4 linked regions of the Homo sapiens genome follow. The protein of the gene in region 4 purifies or fractionates together with the protein of the main gene of each other region. This does not show direct contact. Each region holds a gene or a part of one and is shown on either strand. Other genes may lie near its edges.

Region 1 (3,500 bases), on a different chromosome or scaffold from region 4:
GTATGTAACATCTTTTGACCTGAGTCAGCTTCTTGAGAACGTAGTTTCTTGTGTAGCTTTGCATCCCAAGTAATGCCTTGCACACAGCTGATAACAATTGCATATTAAACAAAGGTACTCTTAATGTCAACAATTGTCTAAGTATTACTTGTCAAAACTATATATATTTAGTGCTAAATGGAAAAGCATCACACTCAGAGTCTCTTTAACATTCCTTGATTAACCAAAAAGGACCACAATTTGACAGATAATATATACTTTCTCTCTGCTTATGTTTCAAGGGCTTGTTATAGGTCAAAGCCTTCCTAAATATCTGACAATACCCCTTATATGGCCTTTTTTTTTTTTTCTTTTGACACAGGGTCTCACTCTGTTGCCCAGGCTGCAGTGCAGTGGTGCGATCATAGCTCACTGCAGCCTTGACCTCGGGCTCAAGAAATCCTCCCACCTCAGCCTCTAGAGTAGCTGGGACGTCAGGAGCACGCCACCATGCCCAACTAATTTTTTTACGTTTTGGTAAAGATGGTGTCTTACTATATTGCCCAGGTTCACGGCCTCTTTTTAAAAGTTACTCTTTATCTAGGTGTCACTATTTTGAACGCTGGTCAGTCTTGACATCACTAGTAGTGAGATGACCAGAGACTGAATACCTTCTGATGTGATGTCATATGATGTAAGTATGCAGAATCACCCATGAAGTATTCTGACCAAAAATATTTAAGCAGAGTCTATTCAAACCTCATGATTTAACTATTAGTTTATAGGATATACAGAGGCACGAGGAACAAGCTAAACAATATCATGAGGAAATAATCTGATAAATCCAGAAAGTAGGACATTTTACAGGGTAAGTGATCCAAACTTTTATTTTATTTTGAGACGGAGTCTTGCTGTGTCACCCAGGCTGGAGTGCAGTGGTGCAATCTCAGCACACTGCAACCTCCGCCTCCTTGGTTCAAGTGATGCTCATGCCTCAGCCTCCCAAGTAGCTGGGATTACAGGCACATGCCACCATGGCCGGCTAATTTTTGTATTTTTAGTAGAGACAGGATTTCACCATGTTGGCCAGGCTGGTCTCGAACTCTTGACCTCAGGTGATCTGGCTGCCTCAGACTCCCAAAGTGCTGGGATTACAGGCGTGAGCCACTGGGCCCAGCCCAAACTTAATAATGTAACTTTTTTTTAAAGCAAGAAAAATAAAAGGAAAAACATCTATATTAAAGATATTTTAAAAGATAATAGAACTGGGCATGGCAGCGTGCAACTGTAGTCCCAGCTACTTGGGTGGCTGAGGCAGGAGGATCGCTTGAGGCTAAGAGTTCAAGTCCAGCCTGGCCAATATAGCAAGACCTCATCTCTAAAAACAAACAAACAAACAAAAGATAACCAAAAATGTAATGCTTGTTCCTTGACTGGATCCTAGTTTGAACATATCAGCTATAAAAACCATTGTGGGGACAATTGGAGAAAGTTGAGTATTAAATGTTTATTGTGATAGATGTGATAATGGAATTGTCATTATGGTAACATCCCACCCTTTTTAGAGATAAATAAAGATAAAATGCCATGATGCTTTCAATTTAACTTTAATAAAATACCTCAGGATAGAAAAAAGATGAGACAAATTTGGCAAAATGTTAAATCTAGGGAATGAGCATATGAGTATTCATTATGCTATTTTCTACTTTTTTATATGTTTGAGAAACTTAATTAAAAAAATTAAGATTGTCTTTACATTTGTCTCACTCTTCTATGTTGTATTATCTAATTCTTTAAAAACTGCTCCAACTGTTCATTTCTAGTTAGCCATTATGAACTTAACTGATCTTATGGTTATCATCAGGATCATATGATTAAATTCTGGTTACAAGAAATAATTTGGCAATCAGAGATTTTCAGGAACTGAGACAGTATTATATTTTACCCAAGGATGTTGCCTAAACCTTTGCTTAAACCCTGTTTATTAGGACATTTGTCCTAAACAAAATATGATTAGCATCAAATTTGATGTGCCTCACCAGAGATGAACATCTGAATTCATAAAGTTCTATATAATGGGAGAGCAAATATGGAGAAACCTCAATCTCTATCTGCTTCCTTATTTGCTCCTCTTTGAGCTAATGCCTATTACAATATTTTCCTTCTTATCTAAACTTTTAAATTCTAGCACAGATCTCCCAGTTTTAAACATTTTAATCAAACTATATATTCTTCTCTTTAAAGATCATGTACTAATATGTAATGTACTAATACTCTCTCTCACATTTTCCTGCCTCCTTTGCTCTTCCTCCACTATAGTTCAGTGTTATGCTAGTGAATTGATAGATAAATAAATACCTGGCATTACCACAATCCTGCCTTTTGCCTGAAAAAAGAAAAAAAAAAACAAGTGAATTTTAATATCTTTCTCTTGAATGGGATAATAAGGCAGTGAGAATAGAAACATAAGTCAGAATATATTAAATTTTAAAAATTACTATTAATGTTTAATTTTTACTAGATCTTCTCTATTTCTTTGGGATCTTGGACAAGTAAGATGTCCAGCATAGTAAATTTGTCTCTAGAAAATTATCTTTCCAAAAAGTCATTTTCCCCCCCAATAAGTGCCATTTTCTCCTTCCCCTTCACCTATTAAGATGGTATATAAGCCCCCAATTCTAAGTCATATTTCTTTGTGAACTTCTGTATGTACTTACATATATATGTACTTATGTGATAAAATCTCTTTTTACTCCTGCTAATCTGTCTTTAGTCAGTTTAATTTGCAGGCCCCCAATAACAAACCCTGAGGATAGAAGAAAAGTTTTTCCTCCCTGACATGGTGAGTAAGAGAAAGTTCCTGCTCTCATGGAGCTTACACATTCAAGAAAGACGAGACAATGCACAGGGATATTTATACAATAAAATTCCAGGTAGCAATAAGTATAACAAAGAAAAAATAAAGCAAGTGAATAAATAAAGCAAAAAATAAAGTTAACAAGAGAGTGAAAGAGGGGAGTGGCTATTTCAAATAATTTAAAAATTGTTAGGGAAATAAATGGAACAAGGATGCTTCATATTCTCAAATGGCCTGAACAAAGCATCCATAAAACAAAACATTGACTATCTAAAAAGCTGAAATCACTTCAGAATGGAAAAAAGTCATATTTGCCTGTTTCTTCCAAATCAAGGCTTTCCAAAACATAGAGAAATAATATTTTTAAAGAAATGAATTCTACCATTTCTTTTCGCCTTCCATACAAGATTATTTAGAAGTATATGCTTATCTAAGGCTATCAAAGTGATTTAATAATATAGAGCAGTCACTAAATGTCAGATTTAATAATATAGAACAATTACTAAGTGCTATAACCTGAAGAAATCCCTCACAACTATTCTAGGAGGTAGGTGCTATTATTATCCTAACTTTGCAGAAGAGCAAAGCTGAGGTTTAGGATGGCTAGGTAATGTATCCATGGTCACTATTAGTAAGGGTCAAAGCCAGGGTTTAAACACAGACC
Region 2 (3,513 bases), on a different chromosome or scaffold from region 4:
ACCTTGGTGAGTTATTTCACCTCTGGTGGCCTCAGATTCCCCAATCATCCCTTGAGGAGTGTGAACTAAAGGCTCTCTGAGATCCATAATCTCAGTGGCTCTCAACTGTGCTCTGTCTCTTACCCTGGGGAGTTCATGATCTGTAGAGGAAAAGTGGGCTTCCTCATCAGAGAGCTCCTAGAATGACAGGCATGATGGGCATATGTTAGGCTCCCCACTGAGATTTGTTGAATAAATGAGGAAATAAACACTGTGGTGGGGACACCGTTGCTTTAAGCAGGAACAGCTCTGACCCTCGGAAAGCCCCCAGGAGATACAGACCCAGAAGGAGGAGGAAAACCTTGCAGCCAGCAGGATCTCTAGGTATTGGGGCTGGAGCTGGCAGTGGGCAAAAGTGGAGAAGGATTCAGCATTGAGGACCCCATGGATGGGCTGCAGGGAGGCAGGTAGAAAAGGCTTTTGGGTTTTCAGGTGGGGGGCAGTCTAGCCTGATCAGAAAGGAGGAAAAGGCCAGGGCCAGATGTCTGGGTGGAGTGAAGGGAAAAAGTGATCCCAGAAGAAGGATTAGCCCCTGAAAGTCCCTGAAGTAGGAGAAGGGTAAAGGTGTGGTTGGTGAAGGAAAGCAGGTTTTCCCAGATTAGCAACCAGTCAGGGGGAGGAAGGTGAGAGTGGGAGAGTCATAAGTAAATTATTCTGAATGTGTGTAGTTTAATGGAATTGGGAAAAAGATGGGGGAAATGGATGGAAGGGTCTTGGACTCTGAGACAAGGGGTCTATAATCAGTCCATTTCATTATTTCTAGCTTCCACCTTCACCAAGGCAGACAAGGAGGGCCCACCTCAGCTCCTCTGCTCCCCCTCCCTTTCCCACCTATTCATGTGTGCAAGAGTGCCCTGTCCCACAGAACACGGGGAACAACCATCTCAATGACAAGGACAGCAGGTGGCAAGGCCTCAACAGGACTCAGATGTCCCCCCAGGGTTAACTCATGAAACCCTCCATGAAGCCTGCTGCTCACCCCTCCCTCAAGGCAAGCCCTGCACCTGGGTCTGAGGATGAGGGTGGCAGTGAAAATTAGGCCAGTGACATCATTTTCAGCCAGCCAGTGCCAAAAAATATCAGGTGGTGTTCATCAAAAAAGCTGAGCCAACCGGTGATGAGGATGGTAGTGTGAGTCATGTGTGACAGGTGAGGAATGAAAACAGAGTGCCCGAGAGCTTCTATTTCCTTGAGGCAGGGCTCATTCATCTTATAAAAGCCAGCTGGCCATTGCCTTCACACCAAACCCAAGGGACCACACAGCCCATTCTGCTCCGTATACCAGGTAAGTCTCTGATTGCAACAAACTGGCAATTCTAGTGTACTTTTTCATTATTAGAAATTAGCTAAAGGCAAATATGTGTAAGCAGGTTAATCCAGGGTTTCAATGGGAGATAGAGAATAGTGGAATATCTTTATTTTAAGTTAAATTACAGTCTGGATTTGAAAGGACCTTAGAGATGGTTAGGGCTCCCACCTCAGTAGATAGTCATTGAACTGGGAGTCCTGGAGAAGATTGTTCAAATGCCCATGGGAAGTTCATAGCAGAACTAGAACTCAGGCCCAGAGCACTCTCAGTAACACTGCAATTTCCCCCTGACAAGATATTTATAGAAATTTTAATTTATTAGATGGATCTCTACTGAGCATTTATTCCATTTAAGGCAGTATGCTAGGCACTTTGGACAAATCAATGCCTAACGTACTTACTTAACAAACATAAAACCTAGCAGGAAGGTAATACATATATATAAATAAATGAAATGCAAAGTAGATAGTAATTGGCATGACGGAGATGGGCAGAGAAGGGCTGTGCACTTTTGGGAGACCTTGCTCAAGGAGACCCTCCTAGGGGTGTCAAGTGATGTGAGCTATGATGGAGGGGTATTTGGACAAGCAGAGATGGGAAGAAAAGCATTTGGAAGGGACTGTGTAAGCACAGACCAGAAGCAAAACCATAGAGGCTTAGATGAATATAAAGCCATCCTATAAGTCACAGGCTTTCTACATGGTACTAGGAGAGGAAAGTGGTCTGATGCCATTTTCCAAAAGACCTAATATGCGGACCTCATGTCCCTCAGAAGCCAGCTTTAGTAGGGCATTTTTCCAGAACAGATATAAGTTGCCTTGGGTAGGAAGGGAGCCAAGAAGAGAACTCCAATAAAATGGAGCAGAAGAAATTGCCTTTTAGCTCCTCCTCTTCAAAGGGCCTGAAAATTATCCAAGCTTATTTCATTTTTAAATGTAATGGGGGAGTTAAGGGAGATGAAAGGCTTTCTCTTCTAAAGGGTCCTGAAATAAAATCTGTTTGGCATTGAATTTGTATCCATCTTTCTTTAATTGAATCACTGTGTCAGCTTTCTGTCTCTAGAAAAAAACACATTTGAAGCATGAATTCTCAGCAGCAGAAGCAGCCTTGCACCCCACCCCCTCAGCCTCAGCAGCAGCAGGTGAAACAACCTTGCCAGCCTCCACCCCAGGAACCATGCATCCCCAAAACCAAGGAGCCCTGCCACCCCAAGGTGCCTGAGCCCTGCCACCCCAAAGTGCCTGAGCCCTGCCAGCCCAAGGTTCCAGAGCCCTGCCAGCCCAAGGTGCCTGAGCCCTGCCCTTCAACGGTCACTCCAGCACCAGCCCAGCAGAAGACCAAGCAGAAGTAATGTGGTCCACAGCCATGCCCTTGAGGAGCTGGCCACTGGATACTGAACACCCTACTCCATTCTGCTTATGAATCCCATTTGCCTATTGACCCTGCAGTTAGCATGCTGTCACCCTGAATCATAATCGCTCCTTTGCACCTCTAAAAAGATGTCCCTTACCCTCATTCTGGAGGGCTCCTGAGCCTCTGCGTAAGGCTGAACGTCTCACTGACTGAGCTAGTCTTCTTGTTGCTCGGGTGCATTTGAGGATGGATTTGGGGAAGGATCAAGTGAACCATCCCTAGTCTTCCTTCAATAAATAACTTTTAACTCCACATCTGGCTGTGCGTCACTGGTTGATTCAACCTCTGTTGCCTTCTCAGCGTGAAGTAGGAACTAACACTGTGAAGGCTGGTTGTGAGGTCTGTAGTCAGAAGGTGGCCGATCCTGACACTGAGAATGTGTGTGAATGTGTATGGCTGCTGTACACACAGGACACTCCTGGGCTGGAAGTGGGAGTATGTTCAGGGCCACCAACCCAATCTGTTACTTTGGGTAGGCAGAGCTAGAGCAAGGCTTTTTTCTTTTACCTTAATGTTTATATCTTAATGACTTGCAGTGAGTCACATGTGAGTGTAGATGGTGCCCGCTTCAAGCCATCATCATCTTTGTTTAGTTGATTCCTTTTTAAAAATTATTCCAAAGAAACAGTGCTTGTGCATAGTCCAGCCTAGTGATCTGTTCTGCACTCATCTTCCTTTTCTGATGCCCCCAATACATGGAGCCAAGGACTTGAACACTCACACCATACCCACAAACACATATTCACTCCCAC
Region 3 (3,500 bases), on a different chromosome or scaffold from region 4:
CAGCACACCAAGTGTCTACTGAGCCCATACATTGGGCACTTTTCCGTGCTGGTGGGGGAAGGGGGAAGGAGGACAGGAAGCAGGTGTGTAGAGCAATGAGGAACACAGACAGGTGCAGGGATAGTCTTGAGAATTCTCTGCTGCTGAGGTTCTCTGCAGCCATCCCCCAGTGGGTTCCAGGGCACAGAACCAAGTCCGCACATCCCTGCATGGGGCCCCCTCTCTCGGCAGCTGGTCTCTCCTGCTCCCCAGCCCTTCCTGCCGGCTTCTGTGGTGCTGAAATCTGTGTCAGAACCTTTTCTGTTCCTCAAAGCTGCCTGGCTCTGGTTCCCTCTGGGCCCTTGCACAGGTGGTCCTCCCAGCCTGAATCTCTCTCTTCTCTGCTTTTCCCTTTTACCTTGCTAACATTTTTCAAGTTTCAATCAGCTGCCACTTCCACTGGAAGCCTTTCTTGTTATGGAATAGGTGTTCCCAATGCCTGTACTTACTCATCACACACACACACTTCTTGTGTCTAGTGGTGTTTGCTAATTGTCTGTCTTCCCAGTGGGCTCCTTAAGAACAAGGACCCTGTCTCTCTGTCCCTCATTGTAGCCCCAACACCTCCTATAGTACCTGCATAATAAGCGTACATGTTCAACCCAATGGACCAAATGCATAAATTACACATTCAAAGAACCTAGAGATTATCTAAAGGCACGCGTGTGGTCAGTGATAATCCATTTGGTAATAGAAGTCGAGTAAATTTCAGAAGTGCCAGAAGAGAGAAGGGAGAGAGTGATGAAGTCACAACAGGAGAGGGGAGCCAGGGAGGGCCTCTCAAGCCGGTAATAGCTAAGTAGAGTCTTCCAGAGTGAGAAACAAGGGCTTTTCCATTAGCAAAGGAAGGTGGCATCCAGGAGGGGCATTTGTAGCAGAGTATGCTATGCCTGAGCAAGGGGTAGGTGAGTGGGAAGAGAAGGGAGGGAGGTGGACCCTGGGCTGTTGCTATTGGTGTTGACTGCAGAGGCTGCAGATAAATTCACTGGCCAGCAGTGGGGCCGAAGAGAGGGGAAGCAGTCAACTCTCAAGGCCACATGTCATAGGGTTCCCAGAGAACTCTTTAAGAGCCAGGACCCTGGCTATCTGTCCCCCATTGTAGCCCCAACACTTCTATCTCCCAGTAGATCGTCTCTGTGCAGAGTCAAATTGGTGAAGTTTCTTAAGAAAAACGTTTTGAGGAAGCATGACCAGAGGAGGGAGATGAGTCCAGAAGCCTTCAGGATTGTCCAGGGGAGAGATAAGGAGGGTTTGGACCAAGGGAAAAGCAAAGAGATGGAGAGAAGCTGGGGCTTGCGATGTCTCGGGGAGGAAGAACGATGTGGGGAAGGAGGGTGGCCGAAGAGTGCAGAGTGGCCATCAGTCTCCTGACTTGGAAGATGGCAGCATGGGTAAAATGGCCTTCTTGGAGAAAGGGAGAGATGGGGCACTCAGGGTGGGGGCAGCTCTGGAGGTCAGTTCAGAACAGGTTGGCAAAGAGTCCAGTAGGTGGATGGATGGATGCGAATGTAACTTAGAAAGAAAATTCCACTTTAGTCAAACAGGCAAATACAAAACTACACAACAGAAATCGCCAATCACATAAGTGGAAATGGAGAGAAATGAACAGGTTTGCAAAAGAATTACTCATTCAGTAAAAGGGTTCTTTATAAAGTTCCATCTAAGTTAAATTATATCTGGTATAATAAAATGTGATTCATTTACATATTTCATTTCCACAGAGAAATTGTTGGGAATGTGGCTGTCACATTATGCTTGGTCTGACATAGACAAGTGACTATGTGTGGCAATATTTTTGTCGCTTTTGGCAAAGGTTCTCTTATCTTTTCCTTCTCCATTTCTGGCAAAATAATTGTTCACTTATTGACTGAATTCTTGTTCCAGTGGGTAAAGTCTTTCCTTCACAATCAGGAGTAACACTTCATGCCGGTGCTCCTAGGAGAAGAGTTGGTGGCAGCCATTCACACTGTAGTATAAATGACTAAAGAGCAAAGTCTGATGAAGGGCAAGGGGGATTATGAAGGCACTGTGCTTGTGAAAAGGATGATGGGGGGAAGGACATCCAGGTCATGGGGGGGAAATTATAAAATTTGTGAGAAGAGAAAAGCCTTCAGACGGATGTGACCTATTGGAGCACACACCTGCTTTGCTTTCCCCTCTGGCTGAGCACAGACCTCCCCTGGCCTTGCATTGGATTCATACACCTTCCTTCTCTAAAATGACCACTTACTGTTGTATCTCAGGGTCAACGCACAGGGTTGGAGCTCCTCTGTAAAGTTGTGTTAAAGGAAATGAAATCTTTCTGATGAAACTGAACAGGTGAGGGTGCTGTAGGCAGGGCTGGGGAGACCTGTGAGCAGTACTTGATAGAGTTGCTCCAATCAAATTCTCTCTGACTTCAACAAAACAACAGTAAAAGTAATGTATTCAGCGCTCACCATGTGCTGGGTCCCGTGCTGCACAATTTGTGCCTTATCACACTCAGTCCTCTGAACAACTCTGTAAGGTAACTATCTCTGTTTTACAAAGGCAAAACAGAGAAGTCCAGAGAGGTTACTTGTCCACCACGAATGTCAGGGTTAGATTCAAGCCCAGCCCTGTTGGGGTTTGAAATTGCTATCAGGTCATTTAGTCTGAAGTCTCCTTGGGGCCAAAGCCATGTCAGCTGAGGCTTGAAGGGGAAGCAGACAGATGTGACTAGAACTGCAGCTCATCAGCAACTGACTGCCAGTGCTCAGGGCACCTGAAGGAGCACAGCAAAAAGGACAGCCTTTTGCTCCAGGTTTCCACTTTTTGAGAGATATGAACACATTAGTAAAATGCCTGTGTCTGGGAACAGGCAGCCAGGGTGAGAAAATAATCAGATCTACACAAAATGGATAAAGAATGTGTGGAGGGACCTCCAAAGGGTGAGAAACCACTTCTGGCTGCTAATGCAATCTGGGTTCACATACTCAATTCTTAAAAAATAAGTCCATGAAGCAGAAACATCAAAAAGCATGGGATTTGGAATTTGAGACCTGACTTTGAAGCCCACACAGAACACAGACAAGTCAACCATGCTATTTGGGGTAAGTTGCACAGACTCTCTGTGGCCTGTTTACTCATTTGCAAGTAAAACAGCAATAATAAGATCTACATCATGGGAATATTGTGAGGCTCAGAGATTATGTGAGAGAGCTCTGCTAACTGGCCTATCTGTCCTCATTCTGCTGCTGATGGCGTGGGGGTGTTAAAGGGTCTCTGATTCAGGGCCTGGACCCTCAGTTTACCCCCTCAATGGTTCTTACTTCTCTTGCAGACATATTTTGTTCCAAAATGGCATCTTACCTTTATGGAGTACTCTTTGCTGTTGGCCTCTGTGCTCCAATCTACTGTGTGTCCCCGGCCAATGCCCCCAGTGCATACCCCCGCCCTTCCTCCACAAAGAGCACCCCTGCCTCACAGGTGTATTCCCTCAA
Region 4 (3,500 bases):
CAAACGTGTCAATATTTATAGATCTTTTTGCAGATACCTGTCAGCAGTAGAAGATAGGGGTGAGCATTTGGGGTAGGTGTGTATGTGAATACTGTGTTGTGGAACTGGAAAAGGAAGTAGAGCAGGGAGGAGGTAGAGAAGGTGGAGACGGTCTCACTCTTCAGTTTATAGGCTTTTATTACTGGGAATTGTTCTCTCAGTGTCTGTTCGTGTCTCTCCCCATCTATTAATAAATGTTTTCCCGGTGTCCACATGTGTGGGGTGCACTCATTTAACTGGCCCCCCAAATGAAAGAGAGACCCTGGAGGTTCTAACCACACCATCTACTTTAAATCTGTCTCCTTATTTTCAGCTTTAAGCCTCTTGCTACTCAGAACCACCATGACTTGAACCAGTGAAGGGGGTTCTGCAGGCAGGAATTCTCTCACTTCTTACTGGCATCCTCCTTGGCAAACATTTTAGGTCATAGTTTTCCCCTCCTATGCCAAATCGATTACCACTCTGCTTATTGTCTTCAAAACATTAGATTAAATCTTTCATCCATGCCTGTCACTTTGTACTCATGTTCCTATGATTTTGCATCTTTTAAAAATTCCTTTACTGTTGTTTTACTAGAGTCTTAGAGAAAGGAGGCAGAACATGGGTGGACAATTAGTTATGTTAAACCAGAAGTCCTGATATTTGAGAAAACAAATCAGACAAATTATATTTTTCCCTGAGTTTTTTTTATTTTTAAATTTTTATGTGAAATTAACTTTGTTTTTCTTTTAAAAGAGGTGTGTTTCAGGATAGCTTTTCTATTTAACTCTGCTTCTGTTGTTTTCAAGTAGTATAGTACTCACAGATAAGGCAACTTTCTTTTTCAGTTCTTGTCGACTTTTACCTGGGCCTTCTCCTCTTTCCTTTTCCTTGGCGTCCCTCTGCTGCTCACTTCTAGTTCCACTCTGCCAGTTTCTCCTTACTGTGGGCCATTCTCCTGAAAGTGGTTCTTGGCTCAGTTTGACAAACACCCAGGTGCTACATTGCTTCAGCCCTTTAAATCTTAACACACACTGCAGCTATTGGATTGGGCGAAACTGCTTTTTAGCGTTGCTTTCATCTTGTCCTGTTGTACTTTGAATGCATGCTTCTTGGCTGCGCTCAGGTTTTCCTATGATCAGAGTGGGTCACACTTCCCTTGCTTCCCTTTGCTTTCTCCTGCACACAAGCTAAGACCATGGAGGTCTTATAGCTGTTATTGCTTTGTCTTTACCCTCTTGTATCTTGAGGTCCATGAAGATATCTTGTCACCTGGTTTTATGTAAATGTTCGTGGGTTTTTGGTTTTGTTCTCCAGTCACTTTTTTATGTTTATGTGTACAATTCAGAAAAATTAAAAAACTTTGCCACCATCTTCCTAGAATCCTCACTTAACAACTTTATGGAAAAATTTTAAAATATATATTCTGTGGCTATTAATCCTGTATTCTTAGAATGCTTGCTTTTGCCTTTTGAGGCTAGGGCACCTCTGTTCCTTTAGTCTCAAATGGAATAGTTTCAGTTTCAATAGCACTTTGCCTCTTTGAAGAACTTTTATAAAATTCTTATGTTTGATTTATTTTCACTATAATTTGCCCTCGATACCTAAATGTTATTTTTTTTCTACTTTTCTTATTGAATAGCATTTATTTATTGGGTATATAACCAATATTATTTGAATAGATCATCTTCTTAAAGTGGGAGTACCAGAACCAAAACTAATTTAGCTAATATGTATTAAACTTACACAGATAGAATGCTCTATTAGGTGCGGGTGATACAGCAATGTAATATTTATAGATATTGGCCATATTTTTTTATTTATGAATTCAATTAGGTAGTAAATGATAGGGAAAAGGAAAATTATTTGGATATACTCTTTAAGATTAAACAAGTGTATGAGCAAGGCACTGTTAGGTTCTAAAGATAGAATGGTTTACAAGACACATTTCTTGTATTTCTTAGTGTGTTGTGAGGGGACAGCTGAGTAAAACAGGCAATTACCATGTTTATTTATTTATTGGAAATGCATCATAAGGGTAAATGCAGGAGCAGCCAGCTTTTTACAGGAAGGAAAAGGGAGGAAAAAGGATATGGTTCATAGTTTGGAGAATAAAGCTAGCTTCTTAGAATCCCCTTTTGATTTTTTTTCAATGCAACTGCAAATTTTTTTAAACTTGGATAATTTACTTTATTCTCTCCAGAATAATCTCATATTTTATTCTTTCATTTGGCCCACTGGAGAGCAGTTTTGCATTTTGTTTTTCTTGATACAGTTCCAGCTGAGGTTGAACCAAGTGACTGCATCAGAAATTTAGATTAAGAAATTGGAAAGGAGCTGAGGAAAAAATTACAGCATAATTTTTTTTTTTTTTTTTTTTTTTGCTTCATATAGTAAGTTTACCTCATATACTTGGGGAAAGAAAACATCTGTGTGTATGTGTGTGTATTGAGAAGTTAACTGTAAATTTACACAGTATCTAAAATGGAACTAGGCTAAAGTGAATATTTTTCTTTCTAGATCCCATACAGTGGTCCACAGACCAAGTCCTGCATTGGGTGGTTTGGGTAATGAAGGAATTCAGCATGACCGATATAGACCTCACCACACTCAACATTTCGGGGAGAGAATTATGTAGTCTCAACCAAGAAGATTTTTTTCAGCGGGTTCCTCGGGGAGAAATTCTCTGGAGTCATCTGGAACTTCTCCGAAAATGTATGAAATTACAGTTATTTCTTTACATTGTAATTTAAGCTTAATTTTATTTCCTTGTAACTTTGTTTTCATCTTAGTTGTTTATTGATAATGATAAGTAATAAGCAATAATAATTAACATTTATTTACTGTATAATGCTATGCTGAAAGCTCTATATGTTCTTTAATTCCTATAGTAACACCATAAGTCATTACTTTGCTTATTTTTTAGATAGGAAAGTGAGGCTTTGAGAGCCCCATAAAGTCACAGCTAGGAAGTGGCAGAGCCAGGATTCAAGCCCAGGCTAACATTAGAATCCAAGTTCTTAAATCAGATGCTGTGCCCTACACTTAGCCCTCTTCATATATTCCATTTGTTGCCTTCTGTTTGATCAGCTCTTACATTTACTGCTCATCTAGAAACGGAAGAGATCATTTGTTTACAGGTGGCTTCCTACCCATTCTCTTCATTATTGATGAGATTAAATCTTTTTTGAAGTCTTTACTATTAATTGAATAGAGTCTTAAGAGGGAAGGAAGTGTATGCAGCCACCTTTTGGCATTGGAAGCCATTGGTTATAAGTTTTTCCACTTATAACTTGTAAGGCTTCAGACATTATTATGATTAAGTGACCATGTAAAGAAATTGGATGAGGCAGGCAGATCACTTGAGGTTAGAAGTTCGAGACCAGCCTGGCCAACGTGGTGAAACCCCATCTCCACTAAAAATACAAAAAATAGGCGGACAAGGTGGTGCGTGTCTGTAGTCCTACCTACTTGGGAGGTTG

The links. The genes of interacting proteins can lie anywhere in the genome.
Region 1: the proteins of GABPA (region 4) and CUTC fractionate together in Homo sapiens (co-fractionation; one large-scale study listed by BioGRID). This does not show direct contact.
Region 2: the proteins of GABPA (region 4) and SPRR1A purify together in Homo sapiens (affinity purification with mass spectrometry; one large-scale study listed by BioGRID and IntAct). This does not show direct contact.
Region 3: the proteins of GABPA (region 4) and SERPINA9 purify together in Homo sapiens (affinity purification with mass spectrometry; one large-scale study listed by BioGRID and IntAct). This does not show direct contact.

The regions. Positions count from the first base shown.
Region 1 is NC_000010.11:99,749,234-99,752,733, reverse strand, and holds part of CUTC (copper homeostasis protein cutC homolog), read right to left. Parts: intron 2,366-3,500; coding exon 2,338-2,365; intron 1-2,337. UniProt on the Homo sapiens protein: May play a role in copper homeostasis. Can bind one Cu(1+) per subunit.
Region 2 is NC_000001.11:152,982,802-152,986,314, forward strand, and holds SPRR1A (cornifin-A), read left to right. Parts: upstream 1-1,279; 5' UTR 1,280-1,324; intron 1,325-2,396; exon of another isoform or gene 2,397-2,410; 5' UTR 2,411-2,429; coding exon 2,430-2,699; 3' UTR 2,700-3,013; downstream 3,014-3,513. UniProt on the Homo sapiens protein: Cross-linked envelope protein of keratinocytes. It is a keratinocyte protein that first appears in the cell cytosol, but ultimately becomes cross-linked to membrane proteins by transglutaminase.
Region 3 is NC_000014.9:94,469,698-94,473,197, reverse strand, and holds part of SERPINA9 (serpin A9 isoform A precursor), read left to right. Parts: intron 1-1,923; exon of another isoform or gene 1,924-3,110; intron 3,111-3,340; 5' UTR 3,341-3,357; coding exon 3,358-3,500. UniProt on the Homo sapiens protein: Protease inhibitor that inhibits trypsin and trypsin-like serine proteases (in vitro). Inhibits plasmin and thrombin with lower efficiency (in vitro).
Region 4 is NC_000021.9:25,755,472-25,758,971, forward strand, and holds part of GABPA (GA-binding protein alpha chain), read left to right. Parts: intron 1-2,538; coding exon 2,539-2,733; intron 2,734-3,500.